Linked DNA regions of Homo sapiens: regions 1, 2 and 3 are each linked to region 4. The links come from fine-mapping of genetic effects on gene expression. A gene starts in region 4. Each other region holds a variant in brackets. All regions are shown on one strand. Distances are between the middles of the regions. Region 1 overlaps FARP1 (FERM, ARH/RhoGEF and pleckstrin domain protein 1). Region 2 has its middle 71 kb from the start of STK24-AS1. Region 3 overlaps FARP1 (FERM, ARH/RhoGEF and pleckstrin domain protein 1). Region 4 holds the start of STK24 (serine/threonine kinase 24).

Evidence for each region. PIP is the estimated chance that this variant, and not a neighbour inherited with it, causes the effect.
Region 1: its variant is fine-mapped to the expression of STK24 in whole blood (TOPMed, PIP above 0.99).
Region 2: its variant is fine-mapped to the expression of STK24 in whole blood (TOPMed, PIP above 0.99).
Region 3: its variant is fine-mapped to the expression of STK24 in cerebellar hemisphere (GTEx, PIP 0.95).

Annotation. Positions count from the first base shown.
Region 1 is chr13:98,424,724-98,432,826 of GRCh38, reverse strand. FARP1 (FERM, ARH/RhoGEF and pleckstrin domain protein 1) reads right to left here. Exons shown (of 27, transcript NM_005766.4): 18 at 1,547-1,784. Among named protein-coding and RNA genes, the nearest start is that of FARP1-AS1, 7.1 kb to the left of the region's middle. The variant T/C (reference allele first, on the strand shown) is at 3,984.
Region 2 is chr13:98,644,590-98,652,692 of GRCh38, reverse strand. No RefSeq gene overlaps it. Among named protein-coding and RNA genes, the nearest start is that of STK24-AS1, 71 kb to the right of the region's middle. The variant C/T (reference allele first, on the strand shown) is at 3,822.
Region 3 is chr13:98,441,229-98,449,331 of GRCh38, reverse strand. It overlaps FARP1 (FERM, ARH/RhoGEF and pleckstrin domain protein 1), which reads right to left. Exons shown (of 27, transcript NM_005766.4): 25 at 3,127-3,234; 26 at 2,515-2,666; 27 at 1-1,096. The coding sequence ends at 1,015. It overlaps STK24 (serine/threonine kinase 24), which reads left to right. Exons shown (of 11, transcript NM_001032296.4): 11 at 1-4,147. Among named protein-coding and RNA genes, the nearest start is that of FARP1-AS1, 9.4 kb to the right of the region's middle. RefSeq lists enhancers at 3,223-3,272, 4,043-4,092 and a silencer at 3,203-3,497. The variant A/CA (reference allele first, on the strand shown) is at 4,968.
Region 4 is chr13:98,573,236-98,581,338 of GRCh38, reverse strand. It overlaps STK24 (serine/threonine kinase 24), which reads left to right and starts at 4,232. Exons shown (of 11, transcript NM_001032296.4): 1 at 4,232-4,594. The coding sequence starts at 4,553. STK24-AS1 (STK24 antisense RNA 1) reads right to left here and starts at 4,084. Exons shown (of 1, transcript NR_046542.1): 1 at 2,498-4,084. RefSeq lists an enhancer at 3,519-3,708 and silencers at 3,799-3,948, 3,969-4,278, 4,329-5,198, 6,663-6,722.

The DNA of each region.
Region 1 (8,103 bases), 150 kb after region 4:
AGTGGGTCCTGTGAGGTCAGGGGCCGCACTGTTCCTTCTCCCTCACACGCCCAGTACAGGTGCTCGCTGCGCAGCTGGGGTGTGAGAGCTGGCCAGGCCAGGTCATGAAGACTTCCGATTTTAGCCTGAGGCAGTCAGCCGTCACCCAGGTTTTAAGCCAAGGTGTAAGAAGATGGATTTTTAAAAAAGATGACAGTTTTGGCTAAAGAGTTGGGAGGTGTTTCTGACATTTCAGGCAAGGAATAAGGGCCTTGCCCTCCTAGTGGGTGTGTGGATTCGGGCCACCTGTGCGGGAGCCACCTACGCAGGGCCAACTCCGCATGCTAGGCCAGGGAGGGCAGACACCCACAGACCAACTGTGACACCAGACACAACGACTTCCGTTCAGAAGAGCACGCGTGGCCCCGTGGGAAAAGCAGGTCTGGAATGCGGCTCTGACCTCTGAGTGACCCAGCAAGTCCCTTCCCCTGAGTCTCAGCGTCACGCTCTGTAAAATGGGATAATGCAATTGATCTAAAGGGGTCCTTAAAGGAGTAATGGTGTGAACGTTGGTACAGTATCAGGTACACAGCACCTGGCCTGGGGCTGAGCAAGTACGAGCGGGTAGGACTGTCCATGAGATAGAAGGGCAGGACGGTTGTGACCATGGGTTCTAGATTTAGGTTCCAAATCATTTCCCTCCAAGCTGTGTGACTCTGGGCAGGTTCCTTAACCTCTCTAGTCTCCGTAGTCCCCATATGTAAGATGAACTCACCTGTGCCTGAGGCTTGGGAAGAGTTAATACAGGAGAGATGCTCATTATGCTGATGGGCACATTACAAATGACCGGTAGCAATGAGCAACAGGATTTCTTACAAGCTATGTTCTGTGGCCATGGTAGAGGGATGAGTTTCCGTCACGTGGGTAGAAGCAAGCTTCCTGGGTGGGGGCTAACTGTAAGCGGAGCTTCTCTAGGGATCTTTGCACAAAACCACCCAGGAACCAAAGGAGAAAATGCATGCAAGAGGCAAAGGAAGAAAGGGGTCCTGACGATCATCAGCACCTTCTTTACGGAAAGATCAAGATGTGGCCGGGCACCGTGGCTCACGCCTGTAATCCCAGCACTTTGGGAGGCCAAGGCGGGCGGATCACAAGGTCAGGAGTTCGAGACCAGCCTGACCAACACGGTGAAACCCCGTCTCTACTAAAAATACAAAAATTAGCCGGGCGTGGTGGCGGGCGCCTGTAATCCTAGCTGCTCCAGAGGCTGAGGCAGGAGAATCGCTTGAACCCGGGAGGTGGAGGTTGCAGTGAGCCGAGATCGCACCATTGCACTCCAGCCTGGGCGACAGAGTGAGACTCAGTCTCAAAAAAAAAAAAAAAAAATCAAGATGTAACCAAACACCAGAGCAGGAATAAAAACCGGCGCCCACCCTGATGAAAACCTGGGACCCAGCATCAGCTGACCTCTCTCCCCGGGGAGCCCCTCCCTGGCTGGGCTCAGTCTGGGAGCACCCGGCCTGAACTGTGGCATGGGCACCAGGTGGCGCAGGCTCCCAGCACTCACCTCGGCAGTCCCTGAAGTCGGCGTGGCTCGGCGGGTGGTGTTTGCACAGCCGCTCCAGGACCTGCTTGTAGTGCATGAGCCGGTGCAGTGGCCGCAGGAGGAAGGTGTTGAGCGGTAGGTAACACACCTTCTGCAGCTCAAAGTCTCTGCAGAAGTTCTCCAGCCGCCGGGAGCTCTTGATTCCATTCTCCAGGGCCTCCAAGGCCTCGCTGTGCTTCCACAGGTGAGCCGCCAGGTGCTTGGGAGGCAACAGAGGAGGAGGGTCCTGTTCAGCTGAATGGGATGCACCTGTGTTCTGCCCAGTTTCACTTGGGGAAATGAAGCGCTCCTGCACTCTCTATTTCACGATTTGTTTAATTTCCTTAAATTTCACATTGTTCATAGTTCACTCTTTTTGTTATTTCACTTAAGTTCTCAGGATGAAATAAAAAGGCCTATTAAGGTACTGAGCAGTTTAAAATACACATGGATCATAAAATATATAAGCTATGTATATAACATCAGAGGTATAAATGTTCCTTTAAAATTGAGCCTGGAAAAACTGGGGACAAATATATCAACAGGAGCTCCTTAAGGAGGGCTGTGGTTTTCTTCTAAATGTCTTCAGATAACAAACAGCCCAGGGGCCGTCAGTGAGCATTACATCGTTTTAAAACCACAGTTCTGCTTCCCTCGCCCCGTCTGCTCAGACAGTAGCTAAGCAGCTATGTGAGCCCCTCCTCTGCTAGGTCTGGGGAGATGGATGAGAGTCAGACAGCGCCCTGACTCTCCTGGAGTCATGGTGGGGATGGGGACAGAGTAAGCGCTTGGATGACAGAGCATTAAAGGAGGAATGAATTCACCTGGGTGGGAGGGAGGACTCCCAAGGCAAGGACACTTCCAGGCAGATAGGGGGAGAGCAGAGGACAGGGGACACCCCAGGACACAAAAACCGAGTTTGCTTTCTTCAAGTCTCACTTGATAATCACCTCCCAGAGTGGGCTTGCTCTCTATGTGCTGGTAACTCCCAAATCTGAATTTTTATTTTTTGTGACAGGGTCTCGCTCTATTGCCCAGGCTGGAGTGCAGTGGCGCAATCTCAGCTCACTGCAGCCTCGAACTCCTGGGCTCAAGGGATCCTCCTGCCTCAGCCTCGAGCAGCTGGGACTGCAGGCTTGAGCCACCACACCCAGCTAATTTAAAAAAAAATTATTTATTTATTTTTAGAGACAGGGTCTCACTATGTTGCCCAGGCTGGTGGTCTCAAACTCCTGGCCTCAAGTGATCCTCCCACCTTGGCCTTCCAAAGTGCTGGGAATACAGGCATGAGGCACCACGCCCGGCCTGAAATCTAGATTCTTCTATCATGTATGTGGGTGTATATTTGTATACATGTCTATAGATATAAAAGGCACAAAATGATGAAAGGTTTTGTAATTGACTTGTTTTTGTAGAAAAGCCTATGGTAGTATCTGGCACAGGCGAGTAGCCCAAGTCAGAGAGGAAAATGCGGCACCAGATCTAGATTTCTCATCCAGGCTATGGCCCAACCTCAGTGGCTTCTCCACTCCCACGCCCCGGAAAAAGCTGGAAACACAGCTGTCCAGACACATGCCCACTTCCTCCTGCCTCAGCTGGGGCCCCCGCATTTATTCTCTAACTTCAGGATGGGTACCACCACCAGCCAGGTACTCACGACATTAAAACCTGGGGTACACTCCACATTCTTTCCTTGTATGAACCCGTCCCCAAGTCCTATCAATTTGTCCTCCAGAAAATGTGGGACCTGCCCTTGTCTTCTTTCCCATGGTCACTGTTCTCATTCTGGCTGTGTGGTCTCCAGCCCCTTCCACTTCACTGTGAGTTGAGCCCCTTGAATGAACTTTCTGCAATGCCACTCAACAGACTCCCCTTAAGCCGGGATCCCTCTGACCTCTCTGGCATTGACGCTTGCGACTCACCCTGAGCCACCCACTGACCGCCCTGCATCCAAATGCGGCACACTCTCGCACCCAGAGACTCTGCACACAGTGACCCCTGCTGAGGACCCCCCATCCCTCGGGGTTACTCCGGGGCCTGCCCTGCTCTGTACTCCTGCATCCTCCCGCACTCACTGCTGTGTCTTTCCACAACCGCCCTTATCACACAGCCTCCCTGCTGGGTTGATTTCATGACTTTCTGTTTTGAAATAGACATTCATAGGAAGTTGCAAAGAAACATACAGGGAGGGATTGTGCACCCCTCACCCAGCCTCCCTCAATGGTGACATCCTGCAAAACTAGAGTACAATATCAACACCAGGAAATTGACATTGGTACAGCCCACAGAGCTTATTCAGATTGCACCAGTTATACACGCTCTTGCATGTGTGTGCGTGCATGTGCGTGCATGTGTGTGTCGCTCTGTGCGATGCTATCACACGTGTGGTCCCCTATTTGATTTTGAGAGGGCATCATCA[T/C]GTTGTAACATCCTGGCATGTCGTCACATCCTTGGGGGCCTGGCATACACAGTGGGTGTCCAAAGGTCTTCCCTGTATATACCAAAGAGCCAACGAAGCAATGCACACACCCAGGCCAAGGCAGAGGTCTTGGGAGGACACATGAGTTGACGGTGGCCGGAAGGCAGGGTGGAAGGTGAAGGGTTGGGAGCAGGGTCTGGAGAGACAGCCTAGGACTAGAGCAGAGGCTTTCTTCACTAGGTTTAGAGTTTGGACTGCATTCTCCAAACCATAGAGAAACCAGGAGGGCTTTGCGCTGTCAGTTTTGTGTTGTATGAACAGTGACTCCAGCCATCATATAAGTAGTGGGTTGGAAGGCTGGGTTGGTGGGAGGTGACTCATTGGGAAGCTGGCCTGGTCGCCTAGCAGGAAGAAAACAGAGAGCCAGGAGAAGCAAAGTGGTAGAAGTGTCAGAAAGAGGTACAGGTGGTAGAAGCTTGGAGAGACAGGCGATACAGGAAGGAATGAAGGTCCCCACTTGCCAAGCAGGTGAAGGTCAGGATGAAAGGCCCTTTCTTTGCATTGATTTCCAAGCGTTTTTGTGCGTCTGGATGGATGTGTGCAAGTGGACATTCACAGCGTGGGCTGGAGATCCTGATTTGGGTGTCTCTGACTCTGTGGAGGTGGTTAAAGACCCTGGACTACCCTCCCTTGGTTGTGTGACCTCACTCCTGTGTGCAGAGTCTGGGAAGAGCCAATCAGGCTGAGACTGATGACAGCAGGTGAGTGCACGGGTCGGGGGTGGGAGCGAAGCGGGAAAGACACTGCAGGCTCGAGAACACTCTAAGCATTTGGACAACAGTGCTGGCCTGGGCTTCTCACATTTCTGGAAACTTCTGCTGTGCCCCTCCATGCTTTATAGAAATTCTTTAAAACAATAAAAACAGCAATTAAAAAAAACCCCAACTAACTTCTCAAAAAGGCTGCCAGTGACTCTCAGCAACCTCTCCGTCTATTTTTATTTTGCTTGCACAGAGCTCCATGCTATAAACGCTCATGGCATCAGCACACTCCTGAGATGCCAGCACAGCAGGGGAAGCTGGCTGAATGCAGAAATGCCAGCTCCCCAGACCGAGGAGAAAGAACGCCAGGAGCGGATATCAGGTGTATTTTTAGGTGGTCTTCTGCGCTGGGTTAGGGTAGGGGAGGGTGGGATGTCAGCCTCTGAGGAAAAGCAGTGGTGGGAGTTGGCACACAACCTGGAGAAGGCACGAAGGACACTTGCTGAACAGCACCACACTGGGGACTGTCCCCGCGGGTGGAGATGAACCTGGCAGGTCTCTGCTGCTGTCCCCAAAGGCCCACACCAGAGTCCAAGCCTCCTTGAAGAGGGCGCCTCCCTGGGGAGCTGTGATCTCAGATTGAAGAACACAGGGAGAAAAGCTGAGAAACCAGAACGGCCTTGGAAAAAGTACAGAGCATGTGAAACGAGGGAAAAGATGGGAGAGAACAACAGAAACAGCGTCCTGTTACATGAGAGAGGAAAAAGGACGTTTTTGAAAAGCAAACGAAGCCGGTCTGCAGTGACTACATACTGTCTGATCCCAGCTATGTGACATCTGGAAAGATAAAACTATGGAGATGGGAAAAGGTCAGTGGTTGCCAGGGATTTGGGGGGCATCTAAGGGGGATGAATAGGTGGAGCCCAGGGAAGTTTTAGGGCAGGGAAACTGTTCTGTGGATCCCTGTCATTATATATTTGTCAACACCCAGAGAATGTACACCACCAAGAGGGGGCCCTAATGGTCAACCTTGTCAGTATTGGTTCATCAGTTTCCACACGAGCACCACGCCAATGCAAAACGCTAATAGCAGGGGAAACTGTGTGTTTAGGGGTGGACGGAAGAATACGAGAACTCTGTACTTTCTCCTCAAGTTTTCTGTAAAGCTAAAATTGCTTTGAAAGATAAAATACGTTAACTTCAGAAACTCCCATGGAAAGTGGAAAAGATGTCTGTTATCCTTCTATCTGTTGTGCCTCAGCCATAGCTCATGCCATTCAAAATACTGTGGCTATGGAACATCTTAGGTAATTCTTGCTTTTCTTTTTTTGCATAGCATTCTGCAACCCTGATCACTTCCACGGCCTCTCTCTGGTATTGCCTCAAATTGCAAAGGGTTGCTGTTTGAACACAGTGAAAAAACAAAACAATACCTCAGGATCCAGTCAATGTTACCGTGGTCTTTGTTAAGAGAGATTGACAGGAAATCCCTTGAGTGGCAATTGATCCTGTCTTTTCTGTGCTACTCACCGACCATCCTCCTCTTGTCTCTCCCTCACGAGATTCATCTTTGCTTATTTATTATTTATTTTTGAGACAGGGTCTTGCTCTGTTGCCCAGGCTTGAGTGCAGTGGCGCGATCATGGCTCACTGCAGCATCAACCTGCTGGGCTCAAGTGATCCTCTCCCCTCAGCCCCCTGAGTAGCTGGAACTACAGGCACTTACCATCACTCTTAGCTAATGTTTTTTTATTTTTCATAGAGACAAGTCTTGCTATGTTGTCTAGGCTGCTCTCAAACTTCTGGGCTCAAAGCAATCCTCCCACCTTAGCCTCCCAAATTGCTAGGATCAGAGGCATGAGCCACCACACCCGGCTGAGATACATCATTTTAATGGGAAAAAACTAAATGCTAACCCACTTAGCTAGGATTATGGGAATTAAGACAAACCCTAATGGTAATTTCATTCTATGAGTGTCTTGTGTATAGTAGGTGCTCAGTTAGCACTGGGTGGATGGACAGGTGGATGGATGGATTGAAATGGGGGCAGTATGAGCACCTTCTTTAAGGGGTTGCTAGCTTCTCTGGGCAGTTATTAGTTTTTAAGGTTGTCATACAGGCTCTGGGCAGTTAAGATTCAGGAAGATTGCTTTAAAATGTGAGTACAGGTATATTCAAAAGAGACGCTGTGTGAATTAAAACATTTTATGTTAAAGGAATTATTAATGGATTCAAATGAAAACAAAAAAAGGAAGATTTCAGATATAAGAGATGGGGCAGACTTTTTAAATGTGGTAGAGTATTAATTTAATATTTATTGACTTCTTTGGATATACTTTCACTTTTATGTCATTGATTGTAGATATTGCTGGATGATTAAAAACATATTTGCGACCAGGGGTGATGGCTCATGCCTATAATCCCAGCACTTTGGGAGGCTGAGGTGGGTAGATCACCCGAGGTCAGGAGTTTGAGATCAGCCTGGCCAACATAAACCCCATATCTACTAAAAACACAAAAATTAGCTGGGTGTGGTGGTGCGCACCTGTAGTCCCAGCTACTTGGGAAGCTGAGGCAGGAGAATGGCTTGAACCTGGGAGGCGGAGGCTGCAGTGAGCCGAGATCGCGCCATTGCACTCCAGCCTGGGCAACAAGAGCAAAACTCCATCTCAAAAACAACAACAACAACAAAACCAACCAAACAAAAAAAAAAAACTATATTTGCCTCGTACACTGATTTAAAGTCATAGAATTTACTGAAATACCTACACAGCTCTGAATCCAACATTTTTGTCATGGTTATTAGAAGAAACCAAAACAACTGACTGAAAATGAAATGTTCAGTCAGACAGTGTTTGTCCACATCTTTTTTTTTTTTGAAGTTTTGAATCATCCATTCACAGAAAACACTTGTTTTGGGTATAATGCAAAACTTTTGAAACAAAAAAACCTACTAAAAATGCTTTCGCTAAAGTGATTGGCTTTTCATTCATGCTTTGAAATAAAATTATCTAGAAAGGTTGGAGAAGGGTTTGCCGAACAGCCATCTTCCTGATGTGCCTTAGATTAGACCGGGGTGTCCAATCTTTTGGCTTCCGTGGACCACATTGGAAGAAGAAGAATTGTCTTGGGTCACACATGAAATACACTAACACTAACGATAGCTGATGAGCAAAGAAAAAAAAAAAACCCCAAAATCACCAAAAAGAAAATCTCATAATGTTTTAAGAAAGTTTATGAATTTGTGTTGGGCCACATTCAAAGCCGTCCTGGGCTGTAAGCTGCTGCTCGGCGGTGGGTTGGACAAGCTTGGTGTAGAGAGTCAAATCAGGTGATGCATGCTGATGGAAATGGCTTAC
Region 2 (8,103 bases), 71 kb before region 4:
TTATTTGTACAGATAAAATTTGAAAATTGTGGGTTAAGAAAAATCCATCAGTAGTCCCACTGAATCTGGCCACAATTCTTTGCTGCAATATGATGCCTTGAGCACACAGTTCTTTACATAGCTGACCTCATTCTATAGAGTGCAGAAGAACCACCTGGAAAACTCATTTAAAGTTCAGATTCCTGGACTCTAGCCCCAAAAGCTCTGATCCAGCAGCCCTATGACTGGAGACCTAGATACTTCTGAGAGCATTGCCTTTGAGAAATCTTCTTGTACAGGGCTGTAATCTCGGCATCATATACATTCTAGTCCTATTTCACTGAACCATTTCACCATAAGCATCTTTCCTTGTTGCCACATGGGCTCCACACTGTAATTTGGCCTTTACAGAGCTTCCGTACATCTTAATAATGTCACAGTGCAGGTGGTATTTTCCTAGCTGACCCAGCTCAAACTCTTCCTCTGGTTTTGTTGATCTCAGATGAAGGGTATGGGATCTGGCAGAAGAAATACAACATTGCATCAAGGGGACGCATAGTCATTTCCCTCCATTGGAACCTTTACATTGAATCTGTTTAAGCTCTCCAGGCAAGTCTGAGTGTGATTAAGCCAAGTAGGGGCTCCGGGGTGGAAAATGGGACCAAGATCTGAGCAGGTACAGTCCACCGAGCAAAGTCAAAGTCTGGAGCGGGAGACTGAAGATTGAAAACATTCCAGAAGCCAGTGGTTGGAGCAGCTGGAAGAAGAAGGCCCAAACCACCAGGGAAGGGACTTGAGTGAGGCGGGTGCCAAGGGCACGGGAGTTGAGGAGACACAGCCTCCTTTGTTTCACAGGGGTCTGCCCCACCCTGCTTACCACATGAGCCTTGACAATCGCTCCAGAGAGTCTGCTTTTGAGAATCTCTTGTAATCTGTTTTACCCTGGAAAAAACTTTTATGTCTACTGATCTGCTGGGGCCCATCTACCTGACCCATTCCTATGACTTAAAAGGCCCTCCCTTTTTCCTAACCAGGTACCCTACTGTCTTGCTTAACTAATATGATTATGTCCTCAGCTGGACTAATGGGGGGGACCAAATCCTTCTAGGGGAGAGGGAGAGACAAACAATCAGGTGTTTCTGAAACCTTATCTCCTCTCTCCATCAGCGATGTCGACCATGAAGGATTGGACAAGACTATATATTTCAGGAGCACCGCTCTGGTATGCAAATCTGTGCACAGAGACCCATGACTGCTGAAAACCAGTTTTAATACCTGGTTTCTGAAAGACTCTTCCAGAAGCAATGTGGGTCTTCATCTTGTTGCTATGGAGGTTGCCAAAGGCCTCCAGCTCAGTTTCCAGAATTCGCAGCGTTAGAGATCCCACCATTCAGACTTATTCAAGTCCTTTCCCATGGGCAAGACTCAACAAAACCAACATGCTCACTCACACATTTACAGTGAAAACAGTCACATCTTCATTTTAGCAGGTCAATAACCTTGGAAAAAAAAATACATTCGGATTGGAGTTGTGCTGTGAATATGAAATTAAAATAGAAGAAGCCAGCTGTTGGAAGAAATATTTTTACCAAGCCATGGTCAGCTAATAAGTTCCCATTCTCCACTATCGAGAGACAGATACTGTTTATCCTGCTTGTGAACCCCTTTCCTTTCTGATTTCTGTGTTTCTGACCAATTCCTTTCTCTTCACCTTTCCCTTCTCAATGCTCCAAGCCAACTCTCAGAACTCAACTCACAAAAACATTGCACCATCATCATCCTTTGCATGGAGTTCGTGCCAATCCTAGTTGCACTTCCTCATCAGAACCTGACTATTTTATGATCATTTCTCAAAGCTTCTCTTCTCAGTCCTTGCTGCTGTCAGTTTCCCCTTCACCAAGTGCTTGGCCTCCTTGTCTAGAACATCCTTGCATGTCTTGGAATTCATGTAATCAAGGAAGAGGAGGCTCGGAAGCATCCGAGCTATGCCACCACACCCCTCGGGATGGCAAGCTTGAGAAACTGGCTTTGCAGGAAGCTTGCTGCAGTGAGAAACAGGCTTTATAGACAGGGCGATTGGCATGAAGGAGCCTTGTGAAGGTAGGAATGTATGTCACAGGCACAGTTTTGGGACAAAGTCCAACTCCGTACGTCCACAGGTGGAGCCGATTCCTGTCAGGTCAGTCTCCATCTAGGCGAAGCCCTTCCAGGAAGGGCACCGAGTTCCAGGGCTCGATGACATCACTGGGGCAGAGCTGCAGGACCAGCCCCTGCCCCTGCTCACTCTCTGTGCCCTTTGCAAACAATGGCCTGCCCCAGGGGACCAGGGTAGAAGCCTCCACCCTGTCTTTGCTTCTCTTATCTCTGAAGTATGGTTTCTCAACCTTGGCACTATTGACACTTGGGGCTGCATAATTCTTGGCTATGTGGGCTACCCTGTGCATTGGAGGCTGTTTAGTAGCACCCCTGGCCTTGACACTAGACGCTTCGTTTATGTCAAGGAAAAATGTCTTCAGACATTGATAAATATCCCTTCTGCGGGGCAAAACCACCCATGGATGAAAACTACGGATACCAAGCTGCCCTCCACTTTCAGAGCAATAAGAAGAGGACACAGGGCCTCTGCTTTCAAGTGGGTGCAGAAAGTAAGACTGGAGCGAGGGGAGGGTTGGAGCCAGCAGGTAAATGCTGTAACAGAGGCTTAGGCAATCCCCTGCCGCTGCATCTCAAACACTTGTTTGTGCAACAAATAATTAAATATGCTATGTGCACAAATCTGCCCATTTGTAGATTCTGGACAATTTCAGAGATACCCTCCTGTCCCCTACCACGAGGCTACTTGCATCTATTATGTTTACCCATGCCAAGTCAAACAGAAGACTCCTCTTTTAAAGTCCTCAAAGCAAAGTTCTCAAAGTCCAAGTTCACCACCAGCATCTTAAGAAGTGTGATTGTTGGCTGGGCGCGGTGGCTCATGCCTATAATCCCAGCACTTTGGGAGGCCGAGGCAGGCAGATCACGAGGTCAGGAGTTCAAGACCAGCCTGGCCAACATGGTGAAACCCTGTCTCTACTAAAAATACAAAAATTAGCTGGGCATGGTGATGCTCACCTGTAATCCCAGCTACTCAGGAGGCTGAGACAGGAGAATCGCTTGAATCCGGGAGGCGGAAGTTGCAATGAGCTGAGATTGCGCCACTGCACTCCAGCCTGGCGACAAAACGAAACTCCATCTCGAAGAAAAAAAAAGAAGAAGAAGTATGATTGTTGTTGTCAATGATGATGTTATTACTGCATAAACAACATTAAGGAAAATTTAAAAAACAAACTGGGCTAGGTATGATGGCTCACACGTGTGATTACAGCCCTTTAGGGGTCTGAGATGGAAGGACTGCTTGAGGCCAGGAGTTTGAGACCAGCCTGGGAAACACAGCAAGACCCTGTCTCTACAAAAAATAAAACAAATTAGCCAAGTGTGGTGGTGTGCTCCTATATTCCCAGCTTCCTGGGAGGCTGAGGCAGGAGAATCCCTTCAGCCCAGGAGTTTGAGGCTGCAGTGAGCTATGATGGTGCCACTGCACTCCAGCCTGGGTGACAGAGCAAGACTCTATCCCTTTAACAAAAACATGACAAATTCTACTGTTATATTATCTCTCCAAATCAAGTGGTTCTCCTTTCTTCATTTCCCTCCAGCCCTTTACCATACGAATACATGCTTTTCTTACACATAAAACTCTTGAGTAGACCCATCTTCAATTTTCAACACAACTTCTCCTGAACATTTATGGGATGATGCATACATGAGGAGTCCTTCTGATGTAGAAAGATATCTTGAGCCAGGCA[C/T]GGTGACTCACACCTATAATCCCAGCACTTTGGGAGGCTGAGGCAGGAGGATTGCTTGAGCTCCAGGGTTCAAGACCAACCTGGGCCACATACTGAGACCTTGTCTCTACAAAACATCAAAAAAATCAACCAACTGTGGTAGTGCACACGCATAGTCCCAGCTACTCAGGAGGCTGAGATGGAAGGATGGCTTGAGCCCAGGAGGTTGAGGCTGCAGTGAGCTGTAATTGTGCTTCTGCACTCCAGCCTGAGCAAAAGAGTGAGACCTTGTCCCCAAAAAAAAAAAAAAAATTGAATGAAAATCTACGAACAAATGTACATACCTTTTGCAACAATTCATTCCGCTGTGACCTAATATTTACTATAGGGCATGGAGGAAGTCAGTTTCAGTCTGGATTCCTCAGAATTGTCTACCTCACTCTGCTCAATGATTGAACTTTAAACAAGAAGTGACCTTAGGTATCACCCAGAGTTCTCTCACTTTACAGATAAGTTACCTGTGGCCCAGATAAGTTGACTTTTCTGCCAAGAGAATATGAATAGTAGATAACAAGACTGGGAAGAAATCCCAGCCCTCCTGACTCCCTGAAGCTGGTGGCTTCTCTCCACACCCTTCCTTACTGAACACCCATAAAGTTCACTGAAGGAAGCAGAGATCAGAATGTAGCAACGGTATTAGACACCCATAAAGTTCACTGAAGGAAGCAGAGGTCAGAATGTAACAACAGTATTAGAAAGAAGCTGATACAAACACAGTTGATTTTCACAAAATGTTTTTTATTGTTTGTTTGTTTATGAGAGACAAGGTCTCACTTTCTTGCCCAAGCTGAAGTGGAAGACAGATTATAGCTCACTGCAACCTCAAGTGATCCTCTTGCCTCAGTAGCTAGGACTATAGGTGTGAGCTATTGTACCCAGCTAATACACACACACACACACACACACACACACACACACATTTTAATTATTATTTGTAGAGACAAGATGTTGCCCAGGCTGGTCTCAAACTCCTAGCCTCAAGCGATCTTTCCATTTCAGCCCCCCAAAATACTGGGATTACAGATGTGAGCCATCACGCCTATCTGATTTTCACAAAGGGTTTTAATTCAGTTTCCTGTACTGTAAGGGTTCTGGTTCTGGGTGTGTGACATACAGTAGAAACTGCCCTAGATTAAAAGTTAGAAAATATGGGTTAAATCTGATCTCTACTATTAATGAGCCCTAAAACCCAAGATGAATGGCTTAACTTCTCCGATCCTTGGTTTCTTCATCTGAAAAAATGTCAGAAATAATTCCTATCAAGTGTGTATTAAGAATCTGAACAAGTTATATTGTTTGAACCAGTAATCTCCTGCTTCAGGAGTTTTATCAATAAAAAACTCTGGTACCTAGAAATAGTATTATGTACAAAAGCACGTAACTACTCCTCTGCTGGTAATTACCATGTATTGAGCCTCCTATATGATTGCTACTGTGCTAGCTGAGTTATGTAATGGTCTCTAATCTCCATAACAAATCAGAGAGATGAGTATTATAGTGTTTATTTTACAAAGGAGAAAACTGAAGGCCAGGGAGGAAAAATGCCTTGTCCCAAATCACCCAGATGGTGAGTGGTCGGAGCAGAGGTCAAACTCCCATCTGCCTCTCTCAGCCAATTTTCCTCCCATTATGCCTTGTTATTTTTTTTGTAATGGCAAATATTTGGAAACAAACCTAAATAACCAATAATAGGGTTTGATTTAAAAATTCTAGAATGGAATATTTTCAGCTATCAAAACATTGTTTCTTTAAGGTTTATTAATCACTTGGGTTTTTTGTTTGTTTGTTTGTTTGTTTGTTTGTTTGTTTTGAGACAGAGTCTCACTCTGTCACCCAGGCTGGAGTGCAGTGACTCGATCATGGCTCACTACAACCTCCACCTCCTGGGCTCAAGTGATCCTCCCACCTCAGCCTCCCAAGTAACTGGGACTATAGGCATGCGCCACCACACTTGGATAATTTTTAATTTTTTTTTTAGAGACACAGTTTCACCATGTTGTCCAGGCTGGTCTTGAACTCCTGGGCCACCTGGCCTCCTAAAGTGCCAGGATTACAGGCGTGAGCCACCGCGCCTGGCCTTAATTACTTTCAACAAGATGCTTCATGGGCTCTTCTGCCTGATGGAGCTAGAGGGGCACTAAGATAGAAGGGAAGGGTCTCCATGCCCAGGCCTGGGCGGGGAAGGGTGGTGGCAGGAATGGATCACCCACCTGTGTGATGAGGCATTCGCAAAGATACCAGACCAGGGGATCAAAGACCTGAGCAAGTGCAAAGCCAATGAGAACTGAGTGTAAACTCACATGTGAAGGTGTATTAGTTAGAATGTAGGTTTGGTTGCTCTGACAGGGAAACTTCTATTTAACAAGGTGGAAGTTTAATTATCTTGCAGAGACATCCAGGCAGGTTGTCTGGGAATCCTAACATCATCAGAGACCCAGTTTCTTTTCCTTCTGTGACTTACCATTCTCAGCACAGCCTCCATCTCATAGCGCAAGATGACTGCTCCAGTCCCCACATTCTAAAGGAGGAGAAAAGGGGAAGAAAAAAGAACACCCCTTCCCTGCAGGACCACAGCCTGGAAGTTACACGCGTCAGTTCTAGGCACACCCTGTTGGCTAGAATTTGGTCACGATGATGCATTCATGCAAAAGGGTCTTGGAAATATAGTCAGTAGAGCTACCATATGCCAAACCCAGAATCCCAGTTATAGCAAATAAAGGGAGAATGGATGTCAGGGACAACTAGAACAGAGGGCTAAGGCAAGGCAAGCAAGACACGGGTCATTGTCCCGTAACCATCTCTGGGGACTCTGAAGGGGGTGTTAACCACGAAAACACAGCAAAACATCCCCAAGTCCATTTTACATTGCTCTAATTTTCTAGGAATTCTCCTTGTTACATCTGCTTCAATCTCCCCCAACACCACCTTCATAAGAGATATTGGGTAAAGTTTTACATGATTTCTCCTGGCCTTTTTTTTTTTTTTTTTTTTTCTGAGACCAAGTCTTGCTCTGTTGCCCAGGCTGGAGTGCAATGGTGTGATCTCAGCTCATTGCAACCTCTGCCTCCTGGGTTCAAGCAATTCTCCTGCCTCAGCCTCCCGAGTAGCTGGGATTACTGGCATGTTACTACCACACCCGGCTAATTTTTCTGTATTTTTAGTAGAGACAGGATTTCACCATGTTGGCCAGGCTGGTCTCAAACTCCTGACCTCGTGATCCCCCCGCCTTGGCCTCCCAAAATGTTGGGATTACAGGCATGAGCCACCGCACCCAGACTTCTCCTGGCTTTTTAAGGTCATGTATGTTTTTGTTGGATAAGACACTGTGCTGAGATTGGTGGCTCAAGCTAACAAGTTATTATTTGCATTATATTGGGTTTAAGAACCAGGACAAAAGATTGTATGTAAAAGAGAATCACAACTTTGATTTTTAAATGCACAGGAAGAAAATTTGAGGGTAAACCTACCATTTTGTGAGTGTATTTTTTGGGTGTTAAGGTAAGTTTTTTCTTTAAAAATATTATTTTCCAGTTTCCAAAGTTTCTGCAATGAACATCTATTAATTTTATATTCGGACATTTTAAATGCTTATTTAAAAACTACTGCCTACTTGTCAATTCTTATGTAAAACCAATGAATGTAATGTAGGTGAAATGCCTTAAACTATAAAGGAAAAATTGAAAAAGCAAAATTTTTAGTATGTGTTATACTGGTGATTATCCAAGGAAAGGGTATTACTACAAGGCAGTGGATTTAAGTGTAATTGATTCTTCTAATGCTAAGAAGATCAATGGTGTTCTGAAAGAATCTTTTTTGGTATTAAGGTTCTCTGTCATACTGGCTAATATTTAATATTCACTTACTATTTGCAAGACACAGAGTCAAGGGTTTTGCGCATATGATGATGTTTAATTTTCACAACATTCTTGTGAAAGAGGGTCTCTCATTATTCCCTTTTTCAGACAGAAATGGAGGCTTCCATTTCTGATTAAGTAATTAGCCCAAGATGCACAGTTAGTGATCTAAGAAAGAAAAACCTCCTGAAAGAAAGACAACCGGAACGTCCTACTAAAAGATCACGCTACCTGTCATACCTAGGGAAACTGACCCAGAACAGCCAGCACCAAGTCATATTTTAGCAAAACAATTGGACAATAGAGGAAGAAAAGGGATTTTTTTTTTTTTAAGACAGGGTCTTGCTCTGTCCTCCAGGCTTGAGTGCAGTGGTGTGATCTCAGCTCAC
Region 3 (8,103 bases), 130 kb after region 4:
GGGAAATGTTTTTGAAGACAGGCACGATATATACTACTAGAGAATGCGCAGTTTCAAACCACAGTTGCAGGAGGATATAGGAATAACGACAGGTGCCGGGGACTACGTACCATGATTTCATAGTGCTCTGCAGCCAGCAGGCTCACTAAACGCTCATCACGGAACATACCACAAATGGTGCTGATCAATGACACACGGGTTTTCATGCTTGTGACACAGACAGACAGCAAAACACCACGGCTTATTATCTTCCCATTGTGTACACCACTCACAGGACGGTGACAGTCCAGGTATTGCACTGGATCTCGGCTTTGCTTAACAGAAAACAACCCTGCTACGGTTGGAAAGAGTTACCACTTAAAACGATTTGGTCAACTTGCACCAAGAAGTAGGTTGGGAACAGGTGTTTTCAGGTGAGCGTGAAACCCCGCAGTGGAACGCTGTGTGCTGCAAATTGCTTATTAATCAGAGAAGTGAGTCCTACTAACTTCCTATTATTACAAAAGTAGAAAGACTGAAAAAAAAAATGAAATCTGAAAATGATCTCATTTGCTTAAGGCTGCACTGAGTGTATTGCAAACAAACAAACAAACACCGGGAAGTCCACTTCGTAAAATGCAGCAGCCAATAGGTGAAAATAATAAAAGAAAGAACTTTTTTTAGGAAGAAAAACACTTGCCCTGTCTTGTGTTGAACGGATGTGTGTGTACTGTTTTTCAGGGGCAGGGTGGAGGGAAGATGTCATTTGGCACTCTCGTAATGACAATGTTTTAATACTGGCACTAGCTAAAGAACAGCGCCCCCAGCGGATGCCAGGACTGGAGGTGGGAGCGCTGTTCATTCAGACGCTGAGAGGTCGGGGTTAAAAAACGCGGCTGTGGAGACAGGAGAGCTGCTGGGAAGCCATGTTTTTGATTTTCAGACAGGTGTTAATTTTACCAGGCTTCATTAATACAGAAGAAAGGAAACGTCTTCCAGGAAAGCAGCCACTGCGGAAACGAGTGTGTCCGGCCATCAATACACAAGAGACTCTTTGTGACTCAACACGTGGGGTCGCGAGGCAGAGCTGGTGGCACTGCGGATCACTTCCATCCACCTGCAACACGGGAACGCCAGTTAGTCAACCTTTTGTTTGGACGGACTCCTGACACTTTGGTGGGCATCGCTTACAGAAACACAAGGTGAAGTCAGGCCGCCTGGTTGGTAATCTGCCACTTCAGCAGAAGAGCAAGGGAACAGCCAGCACCCAGGCGTTCCTGAGGTACAGTGGAGACCCACTGGCCTGGGCACTCACTCAGTGTGGAGCTGGAAGTACCTTGCTGCAGTGACACTGCCCGCTCCATTGGAGCAGTTAGGAGCGAGGTGGCCTCTGGTTGCTGGGGAGAACGCTACCTCCTATTTTCATGGACATGGCAGAGAATGGCGGGACGTGTCCCATCCTGCTTAGTGGAAGCTCTCCCTTCCTTTTTTCTTTTTCTTTTTTTTTTGAGACAGGGTCTGGCTCTGTCACTCATACTGGAGTTCAGTGGTGCAGTTATCGCCCACTGTAGCTACCTCCTGGGCTCAATCGATCCTCCAGCCTTGGCCTCCCAGGAGATGGGACTACAGGCTTGCACCACCACGCCCAAATCTCCCTTTTTATATATTTGTGTATTTGCTCTCTACCGGTGCTTCTCAAATGGGTGCAATGCTGTCCCATTTGGTAAAGTCTGGAGACATTTTTAGATGTCCCAACTGAGGGGTTGCTGCGGGCATCTAGTGGGTGGCCAGGGATGCCGCTGAACATCCTGCACAATGCAGGACGGACTCCCCAAATTACCTGGCCTTGTCCCAGGCCTTTCAGGATCTGGACTGCAAGGCTGGACCCTTTGTCACAATAATAGCAAAATCCCAACTTTGATCAACCCAGCTCTCAACCCAGCTCTCGAGCTCAGTCCAGGATCAGATTTGAGAATGGCTCTCCTCTAGGTTCCTTTTTCAGGTGATGTTGTTTAGGAGGTGCTCAGCATATTGCTGAGGACCCCTCCCCTTCTGCCTCCCGGGGCGAGGAGGGCTCAGCAGGGCAAACTGCACAAGTAGTCGGCTTGGGGATGCAATTTGCAGAGGCCCAGGATCTCTATTCAAAATATGAATTGCAGGAACAGTCTTAGGCCTGACTGTTGCATTTCTTTCTTGGCTAAATGAAGTCTGCAGTCCCTGCCATTACACCATGTAGGCAGTCTCACTGGGGCTTAGCTTCATCATCCCGGACACGTTATGTCAGAGATCTCCAAGCAAGATGTCTAGGGCCTCAGCCAACACCGTGCAGGGTAAGGGCGCAGGGAAGTTGGGACCCCACTTTCTGCCATGAGAACAGAATCGCCTGCTGGTGTCGGGCAGTGGGACCCCAGGTCTAAACGCTTAGTTGGCAGGGAAGGGTGGGGCCATCTCACTCGCTGACTTGGGAGAAATCCTGATGTTTGGAAGAGGGGGTCCTCTTCTGCAGGGCCCTGTGCGTGGGAAGGGGGTGTCTACCTTTCGAACGTGTACTCGCTTTCCGCCCTGAAGTAGTAGACGTGGGACTTGAAGTGCAGCTTGAACACGTAGTCTTTCTGGATGTTCTCGGACTCAGAGGGGATGGTGAGCGAGTAGCCGAGCAGAGGCAGGCTGGCAAGGGGATGATTGTCCTGGAAAGGGGAAACAAAGCAAAGTGGCTTTTCGGGGTCAGCTTCTGCTGCTGGGCCTGGCTGCTGCCCCGCATCAGACAGGGACTTGGGAGCCCAGGCAGCTCCCTCCTCGGGCGTGGGCCTGGAAGGGACCATGGCAGCCAGTGTTTGCCTGTACGTGATGGCCCGGGTGGCAAGTCCCGCCAGGACTGAGCTGTAGATAAAGCCAACCCCCGTCCCTTGTCCAGGCAGAAGACAGGTGGCCCTTCCTAGGGCAGAAGTTGTCCTTCAGTGGATGATAATGTCAGTCTTCCCTAGAGTTGAGGGCCTCGGGTGGACAGGGCCCCCCGCCAGCATCCCTGTCATCCCCGTGACACCTGGAGCCCAAGAGGCCTGAGTCATTCCAGAGGAGGGCGGCCCCCTCACCTCATGCTGCCACCCCCAAGGTCCCAGGGCCACCTGCCCTGTGCGAGACACTTACCTGGTGTGATTTGTAGAAGAACAGGCAGAAGTTTGTGAACACCACCCACAGCTTCTGCCACCCGTTGCTGTTTTTGAATTTCCTCAGCAGGTTTCCAGACAACTGATTCTGAAAGGCAAGGAGGCCTGTGAGAAGCACAGCGGGCACCTGCCCCAGGAGGGCACAGAGAGCAGCTCTCCCTGCACCAGGGCCCTGGGCTGGGGCATGTCCGTGACTGAAGGATGTGGGCCCCACCCCCGCTCCCCCGTGTGTGGGGAGACTTGGCAGGTCCTGGGACCCTGATCTCATCACTTCCCCTTGTCACTTGCTGTGGGGCATCTTGGGGTCCCTGTGTCCCCCCAAAAGACACGTTGAGGTCCTGACTACCAGTACCTTAGAACACAGGCTTATTTGGAAATAGGCTCGTTGCAGGGTAACTAGTGAAGACGAGATCACACTGGGGTAGGGTGGGCCCTAAATCCAACGGGAGTGGTGTCCTGAGGAGAAGAGCCACCTTGAGGGGAGAGGGGTGTGCCCTGTGACACCGAGGCAGAAATGGGGGCGCAGGACCCCATGCATTGCCAGCAGGCGGAAGCTGAAGGAGGGAAAGATCCATCCCAACAAGCTCAGAGCAGCACTCGTTTTGAGGGGCCAGGCACCCTACCCAGGAAGTGGGGCCTGGGGTGCATGTGAGTGGCTCCCACATGCCCTCTAGTGGCCCAGGAGGCAGTTGCAGCCCTGCCCACCTCCAGGCTCAGGGCCGGCCCAGCCCCTGGAGCATTGTTAGGATGCGCTGCAGCCCAGCTAGGGGGCAGGGACAGGCACCTGTGTCCATGCTACCTCCAAACAACTCTGAGCAGGCCTGACGCACTGGTGGCTCATTTCGTCCCTTTGCCAAAGTGACATCACCAGCAGAGACTCAAAGCAGTTGCACCACCTTGTAAAGGCACTTAATGCCACTGAATTGTTCCCGTAAAAATCGTTAAGTTGGCCAATATTGTGGTATAGCTATTTTACCACAATAAAAAATACAGACCTCCGAGTCTGCCTCATTCCATCTCTCTGGGTGCCCCTGGCACTAAGCTTCTGTGCTGGGAGCTGGGATCAAATGGTCTGATGTCCCTGCCCTCCAGTTGCTCAGGGAGGGTCCAGTGGGAGACATGGACACTGACAGTAGGTCCGTGAGGGGCTGCAGGATGTGGGGGACCCCGCAGACGGGGAGAAAGGGCATTCCAGGCCAGGCAGGCAGCTCCAGCCATCCATCCTCCTCCCCCAGTGGCAGAAAGGAACAAGAAAATGCAAGGCTCCAGGTTCCCAGAAGGTCCTGGTGGTGGCCAGGGCTGGGCTGATGCCCATGCGGCATCTTGGGTCACGCAACATGGAGCAAGGAGGGTGGCACACTCCCCTTTCCTAGGTATTTTCATACTGACTCACATAATTTTCACACAGCAGCCAGCCCACAGTGGGGTTCATACATGTCACCCATCACAGTCTGGGCCCATTTGTTTCCAAAGCAGCTTCCTTAGCGCTCTCTAGCTTCTGCCTGGCCATTCCAATAGCCTCTGGAAACCTCTTTATCAATAGGCACATCCAGCGGCCCTTCCTCGCTCCCCACGGCCGGGCCGAGCCTCCCGCTCCCCTGTGTCGGGTCCATCCTGGCCTCCAGCGTGTTACGGGCCCTGCGCGCCATGAGTCTCCTGCCCTGCACTCAGGAGGCCGAGGCCATGCTGGTGGCTCCCAGACCTGTCTCCATTCACTGCCTTCACGAGAGGGTCAACATCCTTGTTCAGAACCAGACCAGCCTGCCCTGTCTCCTCGTGGCCCTTCATTGGGGCCACCGCTCCTCTCCCTTCTTGGATCCC[A/CA]TTCCCTCAGACCCTGCTGTGGGTTGAATTGCACCCCCAACAAGTCCAAACCCTCCGTGCCTACAATGGTGACCTCACATGGACACAGGGTCTCTGCAGATGCGATCGAGTCAAGGTAAGGTCACTAGGACGAGCCCTAAGCCCAGCACGAGCCGTGTCCTTAGAAGAGGATATTAGAGTGCAGATACAGGGAGGACAGCTGGTGACACGGCAGACCGGAGCCCTGCAACATGGGTGGAGTCGGGGACCCCCCGAGAAGAAGACTGCCGCAGCCACCAGATGCTGTCAGGTGGGGACATTTTCCCTCAAGGCCTCCCAAAGGAACCCACCTGCCAGCAGCTTGATTTTGGACTTCCGGCTTCCCGCACTGTGGGAGATGTTTCTGTGGCCTCACCCAGTCTGAGGTTGGTGCCGAGTGACGCCACGGGGAACAAATATAACCCCCGTGCCCGCCACTCCCTGGCCTCACTGTCCCTTCCCTCCTTCCGGTCCTGTCTGCACCCCGTCCCTTCCCTCCTCCCAGTCCTGTCTGCGCTCTGTCTGCTGAACAACTTCCCTGCTGTCCCGTCTCGCCACTCCAGCCTTAAAAGACAACTTGCATTGCTTTGCCTCTGGCCCTTCACTGGCTCTAGTGCCCACAGGCTGGGCAGCCCTCTGGCCATCCCAACATCTGACCCCACCTCTAGTGGGAGCCCCCAGGCCTGCCGGCTTGCCCACAACTTTTAGCAGAGGCCAGTGAGGCCACACGGTCCCCAGATACGCCCCTTCCTCAAGTGTGCCTACACGAGTCAGACGGGAGTGGGAACTGGGAGAGGCTGGGCACGGGACTGGGGAGAGGAGGCTGTTGAGTCAGGAGGAGATGGAGCTGCTTTGTCCTGTCATGCAGGGAGGAGGCCCTGGGGATGGCTCATCTGCGAGTCAGCGAGCATTTGGCGTCTGGCACATGAGGGCTGCCTGCCACCGACACAAGATTGATGCCACGTGCCTTGGGAGGGGGCTTTCTGGCAAGGAGGGACATCTGCAAAGTGATAGAGCAGCCCAGGTCCCTGACTGTACTAGGTGGTCACTGCCACCTTCAAACCCCACTGGCCAGTGGCTCACTCTCCTGCTCTCTACTAGGGTCAGCAAACTTTTCCTCAAAAGGCAGACGGCAGATATTTCAGGCTTTGCAGGCCAAGGGGCAAAACTGAAGACATTATGTAGCAGCCATTAAAAAAAAGTGAAACCCATTCTTGGTTCGCAGGCTGTAAGCCACCAGGCCGGGGCTAGATCTGGCTGGGGGCCAGCGTGCCCCTGACTCAGTGCCTTGACCTGATCATGCACACGGAAGGCTGCGACCGTGTAGATTTGTTATCCAAAAAAGCTGGGCTGCAGGTGGCTCTGGGCCACCTGGACCCCACTTGGGTATTTGCTGCCTCGTTGAATGGCCTGGGTGCCTCCAGGTATGTAAAAAGCTTTGAGGCCTATGACAAACCCCAGCCTTGAGAGTCGTAATTCACACATTGCTGAGGTCAGGACGAAGCAAGGCCAAGACGGTTCCTCCCCAGTGGCGGCGCCACACATCGACTGGCTTCGTTTCAGACACACGCCCACAGGTGAGATCTGATGAGGCCTCGTTTCCCATGAGCCTATCACGGGTTCTTCCCTGCTCCTCCGCTTCGGGGGTCTCCTTTCCTGCTATCATAATCCCCATCCCCTGGGAGAAGTCTCAGACCCGCAAGCTTTGCGCACAGGCCTGGTGGAGGTGTGAAGCTGGGGAAGAATGTTTAGTGCTCTTCACACCTGGGCTGTCAGGAGGCCCGGGGAGGGAATATTCACACCTGCACACTCAGGGGAACCCCATGGGACAGAGCCTCGTATGTGGGGACAGCTGGGAAGAAAGGCTGTGCCCGTGGGGGAGCCAGGGCCTGCACCTCGGATGTGTCCCCTTGAGGATGTCTTCAGAAGCAGGCCTGGGCTTAGAAACAAGCGGCTTGTAGCAGGAAACTCAATAAAGGCAGGTCTGAGCAACGGGGAAGGTCGTTTCCCGAGAATAAATTCCGAGACTCTCTCGAGACCCTCCATGAAGCACTGCTGGCTCATTCCTGCTGCTGTTGGTTCCAAGAGCCAGCAAACTCCTGTCCTGGCCTGAGTCTCTTATGTGACACTCTTTGGACCAGGCCTGTGTGGGAACTGGCCCTTTCTGCGTTTGGAAGGGAGTCCTGCCTCGACTGCAGCAGCCCCGCAGAGGGCGCGGGGGCAGAGATTCTGCGGTGAAACGTGAGCATTCACATAAAACACAATCACAATGATGAATGGCCTCGCCCCAGCTCAGGGCAGCTTCCACTGCCAGTGAGAGATGAAGAAAGCTTTCCTGTTTCACACCTTCACGGGCTTGAAGTGTTCTGAAACACAGCTATGGGCCTGGACTGAAGAATGCTTAGGGAATGGGCATTTGGAAGGGTCTGGAAGGATTCAAGATCTGGGAGAGATGCATCTTCAAAGCCAACTTTCAGGTGGTGGGCTCAGAAAACAATACCCTGAAGTGAAAGGTTCAGAAGCCAGGCTTCCCTGCCCACCTCCTGCCTCGCCCCTTTCCTCCCCAGGCGAGCCACGGAAACTGGACTCCCCCTTCCTTAAGGCGGGTCATTGAAACCAGAACCTCCTTCCCCCAAAGCCAGCCACAAAACCAAAAACGGTCACCCTAACCTTTCTCCACCGTTCTGTGTAAGAGCTGGCTATAAACTTACTCCCTGGCCCACCTGGTGTGAGAAGAGGTTCTAAGACCCCCACTGTAGAAAGGGTCCCGCACCATACCCCGGAGCAAGGAACGCTGCTCAGAAAGGCCCAGAAAACCCGGAGGGGCCCTGCGGGGCTCCTTTCGCCCTCCTGGCACTAGCTCTCAGCCTGTCCCATCAGCTCCCCACGGCGCCCTGTTCTTCACGGAAGCGAAGCATAAAAACAGACGGTTTTCGCCGGACCTCTGGGTCTTCATTCTGAAGGCTCCCATGTCATGTAAAATGACGATGAAATAAACTGGTCATGCTTTTCCCTTGTTAGCCTGTCTTTTGTCACAGGAGTGTCTGCCGTGACCCTCATGATGGGGAGGAGCTGGCACCTGCTTGCCATCGTGCAGACTCTCCTCCCTCCCATGCAC
Region 4 (8,103 bases):
CGACTCCGGTATCTTTCTAAAAACAAAGAATTAGGGCCAGGCGTGGTGCCTCACACACTCTGGGAGGCCAAAGTGGGCAGATCACTTGAGGCCAGGAGTTCGAGACCAGCCTGGCCAACATGGTGAAACCCCGTCTCTACTAAAAATACAAAAATTAGCCGGGTGTGGTGGCGCTCGCCTGTAGTCCCAGCTACCAGGGAGGCTGAGGCAAGAAAAATGCTTGAACCTGGGAGACAGCGGTTGCAGGGAGCCGAGATCTCACCACTGCACTCCAACCTGGGCAACAGAGCGAGACTCCATCTCAAAATAAATAAATAAATAAATAAATAAATAAATAAATAAATAATAAAAACAGGAAATTAGGACACAGGAACACACAGTGAAGACCACGAGAACACAGAGGGAGAAGCTGGCCGCTACAAGCCCGAGAGAGGCCTCGGAAGAAACCAATCTTGCTGACACCTTCATCTTGGACTTCCAGCCTCCAGAATGGTGAGGAAATAAATTTCTGTCGTTTTGGCCATCCAGTTGGTGGTTCTTTGTTACGGCAGCCCTAGCAAACTAAGGCAGGGTGCAACTGAAAACCTACTTAGGGTGATATCCCTGCAAGAGCCTGCCCTCTGAGCTCTCCACGCACAGAATGAAACCTTATTGGTACCATTCCTCAATGTAGCTGGGATATTTTTCTGGGGCTTTGGCATACCTTTTCTTGCTATTGTGTCATCCAACAATGACTAGACATTCTTCTTTAAACTGATCTTGATAATTTGTCTTCACCTACTGAACATGTGTAGAAATTTGTCTAAGCCTTCTGTTAGTTACTTATCCAAGCTACTCCTATTTCTCCCTTTAAAGTTCACCATGTAAGTCCCTTTCTTTAATCTCTGAATTTAAATTGCTAATGCTCTACTTGTCTAGCTGTTCTTTATAAAGCAGCATTTGGGGGTGTTTATCTTTTCAACTTAGAAAGAAAAGTGAAGGGATTGATTGTGGAATTCTTGTTTTCTGTTCCTCTCTGAGCTCTGCTGAGAGTGCGTACAAACTAGCTTAGGGGCAGCAAATACATAGGGGCTTTATATTTGGAGGGGCTCCATATAGGGGTATGGAAATATTCTTTGTGGTCCAGAATATATTTCAGATCATAATTCATTGCCAGACTGATGTCCTTAAGTGAACACAAAAGACAAAGAGGACCAGGGAAGAAAAATAATTCAATGGATAAAGTAAATAACTCAATGGGTTAGTATCTCCATGGAGACCATAAAATGCATCATCTCTATGGAGACTCTCATAATCTCCTTCTGGACTTACGGTAGTGTATAACCTGTTGTAATCATACATTGGGGGTGGAGGGAAAGTGACAAGAGGAAGAGGGTGAGAGGATGATCCTTTTCTTTCCTTGGTGGAAATGATAGCTATTGCCACTCTAAGTTTAATCAATTATGGTATTGTATTCATCCAAAGTTAGGATTCTGGGAGACCAGGTCCCTAGGATGGGTTAAGAGGCACCTGAGGATCTAATGTTTATATGCCCAGTACTGAACTGGGTATCTGACATGTATTAATAGTTGGTATTCAAAAAAGGTGTGAATGAATGAACATAATAGGCAATTGCACCGGATCTGATCCCGGGCTCAGGCCCTGTGCATCATCTCTGTTGTGCAAAAACAAATAAGGTGGAGACCTACTTCTGCCATGGGGAATACTCGGTACTACCTGCATAGGGCCAAGGAGAACCAGTAACTCCCATGTTGCTTCCTTCCCTTCTTTCGATAAGAATGGTGCTCAACAGTATGAACATTGTCAAAGGATGAAACAATGGTCAGTGTGGAGAGAAGATAAACAGGGTTCGGGGCAACAGACCAGCTAATGGATGCAAGTCACTGTGTCCAGAGAAGTTACATCCTGCCGGAATCTCCCTGTTTTGAGCCTCACTAGCCTCAGGACACAAACTAGGATTCCGGTTATTTTTTTATACCCAGGGTACTATGGGCCTTTGTCCCCCATCTGCTGTGACTTATTTGCTGGCAATTAGCCCACTGCAAAGTGATTTCTGAGCATTTACCATGGTAATGTCTCAGATCAGCATCCAGACATTTCCATCCATTCATCTAGTTTCTTGCTCTTTATCTTGGTGCCAGGTTATTGCCCTGGCTCTGCTGACCCTAGAAGAATATTTTTACTGTCCCTTTTCTATGCTTAGACATGTTTAGATCCACAAATATTTACCATTGTGTTATAGTTGCCTCCAGTATTGAGTTCAGTCACATGCTGTTCAGGTTTGTGGTCCAGGTGCAATACGTCATACCATATAGCCTAGGTGTGTAGTAGGCTATGCCATCTAGGTTTCTGGAAGTACACTCTATGATGCTCACGTGACAAAATCAACTAAGAACACATTTCTCAGAATGTATACCCATTGTTAAGCAATACATGACTGTGTGTCTGTAGGCCATATATATTAATATATATATAGTCATTTGAGATCAGTCTATATACAGTGTTTTGTACCCTGTATTTTCTTTAATAATATATAATGAATACATTTTCCCCATTACTAGGTACTGAAAGACATAATTTTAAATGACTACATAGTACTCGTATGAAAATGCTATTATTTACTTAACCTCTGTGAGACTTTTTGGCTGTTCCGTTTCCCCAGGATTCTAAACATCACTGTGTCTTCTTACATGCATTCTTCCACACTTCTTGGTTGTTGCCTTAGGATATGTTACTTTAGGTAGAATTCCTGGGCTGCGCTGAAGAATAGAAACATTTTAAAGATTCACATTCTTGCTTGTTTTGCTGTTCGCCTCTTTAGGTACCATATTTTTTAGGTGTACAAAATTTATACACCTGATTTTAAGTTCCTGGGTATCAGGGTTCATACTTCTCTTAATTTTGTATTTCCTTGCAGTCCTACTTACGGGTGGCAGGGCTCCTCAAGGGATGGGTGTACCAATGACAACCATGAAAGTATTCTAAGGTATTCCCTAGGACTCCGAGAAAAAACATGCATCTTTCCAAAGGGAAAGAAGGGATTAGATGTTAGCATCCTACTCCATGTCAGATCCAGAGCACCCGGGGGAACTGAAGTTCGTGGATGGAATACAATGACACCTCAGAAAAGAAATACTCCTTTGGTGGAGGCCTTTAAACTTTTGGGGGCTCATTTTGTCTGCCTAACTCGCCCAGCCAGGGCGCAAAATGGCCACTTAGGAGCATGAGTGAGGTGCCAGCGTCCCTACAATCTAAGGAGCAGGGAGTCATCACTGGGGTGGCTGCCGCTCTACCTGTTTGCGACTGTAATAAAACACCTTCTGGAGGCCGAGGGACCCGCTTCATCCTGACTTTTCCCCTCAGTAGCTAGAGAGAAGGCGGCTGAAAAGAGGAGACAGAACTGGTGCTGAGTGGGCCTGGAGCTTCCGAGGCAAGGGAAAGAGGGAGAGGGCTGCAGTTCAAAGTCCAGACGCGCTTTCCTTCCATTCTCTTCCCTTCCTCCCTGCCCTCTGCGCCCCATTTTCCCCTTATCGTGGGTGGGGGCTTCTGATTTGCTGCGGATCCCAGAGATGGTGGGGTTCAGCCTCCGCACTGCTTAGCTAAGTTCCCAGCCCAGCAGTCCCAGCCGGGCTGTTTTCGGTAACCAAAGCACTAGGAATTAACCTCTCTCTCGGCCTCTTCCCTTTCGGTTTCCTTCTTGGGTTGGCTGGAAACTTCACCCAGACACCGAAGCAGCTCTGCCCGGCCTTTTGGCACAGGCCACCGGCCGAGGCCCCACGGGGCGCTCTCCTTCCCCAGGTGCCCCCGACTCCGATCCTGCCCTCAGGGGCTCGCCCGGGACGCGTTTTCCCAGAGGCCGCCGGGGCGGGGTGGGCTGGCTGGCGGGAAGAGGGGGCCGCGGCCCAGGCTCGCCCCGGCGCCGGCCCGGTGGGCACGCGGCCAGCCTCCGGCCCCGACTCGGTCCCTCCCGGCGCCCGCCCCAGCCGAGGCCCCCTCCCGGCCCCGCCGCCCGCCCGCGGGGGCGTGGGAGCGCCGCAGGAGCAGCTGGGACCCGGGCCGGGCCGACAGGCGGCGGCTGCGGCCTAGGGCTCCCGCGCGGCCACCGGCCTCTCCCCTCCCCCTCCCGGAAGCGCGGGGCGGGGTCCCCGGCCGGGCCGTGGGGGCGGGCGCGGGGGCCGGGCCGGGGCGGGACGCGCTCGGCGCTCGCGGGCTCGGCGGGCTGTGCGCGCCCACTCCGGCTCCAGCGGCCAGCGCGCGCGGGCCCAGGCCGCCCGGCTCCAGCCCAGCAGTAGCGGCAGCAGCGGCGGCGGCGGCAGTGCGCGCGAGGCCCTGCGCCCCCAGCAGCTCCTCCCTGGCGCCGTGCATGGAGACGCGGCCCGCCACCCGCCGCTGAGCCCCCGCCGCCCGGCCGGGACCCGCCAGGGCTGGGGTGGCCTCGGGCTCCGGCCGGCCCCGCCGCCCGAGGGCTGCGCGCGGCCCGCGGGCCTCGCCGCCCCGCGCGGATCGTCGCGGCCCGGCCGTCCCGTCCCAGGAAGTGGCCGTCCTGAGCGCCATGGCTCACTCCCCGGTGCAGTCGGGCCTGCCCGGCATGCAGGTAGGCGGGCGCGGGCCGCGGGGCCGGGATGCGCGACCGGGGCGGAAGCAGCAACTTGGCGGTATCCACACGGCGTCCCCCTACGCTCAGCCGGCCGGGGTCGCGCCGGAGCCTGGCTCCCCGCGCGCCCGGCTCGGCCGGGGGTCCGAGTCCGAGTCCCTGGGCGTCCCTGCCGGCTCCGGCGGCCGAGGTCTCCGGCGTGTGCGTGCAGGAGCCGTAGGAACCGCGGCCTGGGTCCGGATGTGGGGGTGCGGGCGCCTAGTCCTCCGCGCTCCCCTCGCCCCAACACTCTTCCGGAGCTGCAGGCCCTGGGTGGCCCTGTCCCCGGGAGAAGTGAGGTGGAGTGATGCCCTTGGAGGCCCCCGCCGGGTCCCGGGGCCCTGCGTGGTGGCCGGGTTGGCGGAGGGCCCCAGGACGCGTCCCCCAGGCTCGTCCCCCACCCCCGGGCAGGCGGGCGGGAGACCTGGGCAGGGCGGGGACGGGGAGCGCGCCTGGACTCGTCCGGGCCCGAGCGGAGTAGGCAGGGTGGAGTGGAGGAAGGTAACCGCGAGTTCCACTTGCAGTGGCTTTGCCCGGAGCCCCCGTGCACCTGCGGACCGGGGGAAAGTGCGAGTTGCAAACCTTCTGGAAGGAGGAATCCCTCGGACAGCCGCGCACCAGGGTCCCGGGCCCGGCCCCGGGACCCTGGACTTTCACTTTGAGACTTGGTTGCATTTACAGGAATTCTTCGCCCAGTAAACCTCTCTTTCGGTACTTGGTGACACCTTGGCCTACCAGTGACTTTTTGGGGAGTGGGAGAGGAGTTGAATTTCAAATTTACATGTATAAGTTAAAGGTTTTTTGTTGTTGTTGTTTTCGTTGTCGTTGCTTTTAGCCCTTTGAAAAACAAAGCTACCGTCCTTGGCTAACTCTTGTAAACTTTGTAGGCGCAGAAATGGTGGCAAAATGCTTAGGATGGAAATCTTAGGATGCAGTTAGGATATGTCATGAAAGTTTGCTCTGCCAGTTTAGCTGAGTGAACGTTAAGTGTTTGAAGAAAACCAAAAGCATCCAAGTAGATTACTGGTTGATTTACAGGTACCAACAGGCTCCTTCCCTGTGTCTTGAGGGCTGAGAAGCACAGAGCCCAGACCTGGGACTGCCTCTGGGGTCTGCTCGCCTCTTCCAGTGAGATCATCCCTCTCCCTTCTTTTTTTGAAACCGTAAAAAGAAAACTGGATTTCACTGTTCAGGTTTGAATTCTGGAAAAATAGGAACTCAAAGTTACCACTTTAATGGCAGCTAGAATTTTAGTCCAAGTGTGTGTGTGTGTATATGTGTGTGTGTGTGTGTGTGTGTATATATAAGCAGTATATATATGTGTGTATATATGTTTAAGCAGTAAATAAATATACATTTAAGCAGCAACAGTTAAGTTATTATCTTAAGAGTGACTGGGAAGATGCTTGAAGAATATTCTTTTGTCGACTCTCATTTAAGGAGCGTTGAATTTAGCATGCATTCAAAACCTAAACTTCTGCTGACTGCTGGGTAACAATCAGATGTGGTTTCTTGGTATTTTCTAAAGCCGCTTTGGTATGAATTTAGAGGTGTGTAGGTCAGAGTGAACTGGGTGAAAAAAGTAATTTCTTACTAGTCGAGCAAGAAAGGACTCTTGTAATGATTTAAAAAAAAAGTTTTATCAATATTTCCTTTAGGTTGATATTTATACCGTGTTCATCAGGTTGGAATCTAGCACAAATGCCTCACTTACTAGGTTAATTGGCCTTTGTGGATAGCGAATCAGTTTGAAAAGGTACTAAAGCCCCTTTGGCTGGTGCCGTGAAGTCAGTATCAGATGGTTACCAGGTGATATCTAGTATCTCACCTTTTCATTTTTATCCTCACTTTTTTTTTTGAGTGGGTCAGAATTCTTAAACCTTGGGAAAAGAAGATACATTTCCTTAATAACTTTGCCTCTCAACTATTATGTATCTGTTAGGTTGTGTTACATGGGAACTGTTTTTATTTTGTTTTCTCAGTATGAAAGATCTTAAGTGTTTCTCAGTGGAAAAGATGATCAGATTTTCAGCTGTTACAGTTTTACAGTTTTAGAGGTAGGTAAGTTGGCTTCTGCCAGTCATTCCTGTACCTAAGTACATCTACAGACTGTATGGTAACAGTGTATCATTTGGGGAAGAACATTCTTTTCTCCTCCCCCACCCCACAAAAGAAAAACAACAGCACATTTATTTTCTACTTCAAATTAGCAGTTGCTACTGCCCTGGGAGGCTTCCCTAAGAGTTGTTGCTGAAGATTCAATTAAAAACACACCTGCTTTCGACTGTTGTCTGCTAAATGGGAGGAGAGAAGTCCGTATCTCTTCTATGGCTTGCTCTGATAGGCCTCATAGCCCTCCCTTTTTCTTGTCTCCTGACCAGGGCTTATAAGGAGTTGGCTTAGAAAGACAGCAGAGTCTGTAATCTCAGCAGTTTGAGAGGCCGAAGTGGGCGGATCATGAGGTCAGGAGATCGAGACCATCCTGGCTAACATGGTGAAACCCTGTTTCTACTAAAAATCCAAAAAATTAGCTGGGCGTGGTGGCACACGCCTGTAATCCCAGCTACTCGGGAGGCTGAGGCAGGAGAATCACTTGAACCCGGGAGGCGGAGGTTGCGTTGAGCTGAGATTGTGCCGTTGCACCCCAGCCTGGGCGACAGAGGCAGACTCCGTCTCAAAAAAAAAAATAAAATAAAAAAATAAAGCAGAGTGAATTCAGGTGGCCTAGGCAAGGATGCTTGAAAAATAACAACCATGTTAGTATAAACACCATTTTTCAATGTTTTGCAAATCATTTTTATGCCTCTTGATTCTTACCGGTACCGTTTGAGATGTAGATGATATTATACCATTTTGTAGATGTGGAGACCAAGGAAGACTTAACTGACCAAGGTGAGATCATATATTATGTGGCAAATTTGTGATTGGAAACTACTACTCCTCCTACTCCCACTCATCATGCAGTGTTACTGTTTTATGGTTACTTTTGCAAACATTAAAGTTTATCTCATTGCTAGTTAGATTGGCTAAAGAAATTAGAAATAGGAGGCTGATTTTTTAATTTATTCAATCAGCAACCCTTATTGAACTTTCATGTGCCAGGTCCTAGGGGAGGGGTTGAAAGTGGTAGATCTGAATGAGGTTACCATTTAAAGTAAATGTTTAATGAAAGTTGCTGAAGCCTTTGCTTTTTTTCTCTTAAACCCCAGTTTTATATTTCAGTAGGGGAAAAAAATAGACATCAGAAACTGAATGAATATAGTGACGAATAAACATAAAGAAATCAGGCTGATCTGTGGCTATAAGTACTCCGTCTTTCATTGAGCATTTGTTGTTTCACTCAATTGAGATTAAAAGAAAAGCTTCAGATGGAGGCAGGAACACCAATCGGCTTTGAGTTTGCAGAAATGTGATTTAAAAATGAGATTTTGGTTTGCACATTTCTGTTACAAAATTTTATCAGTCACTTT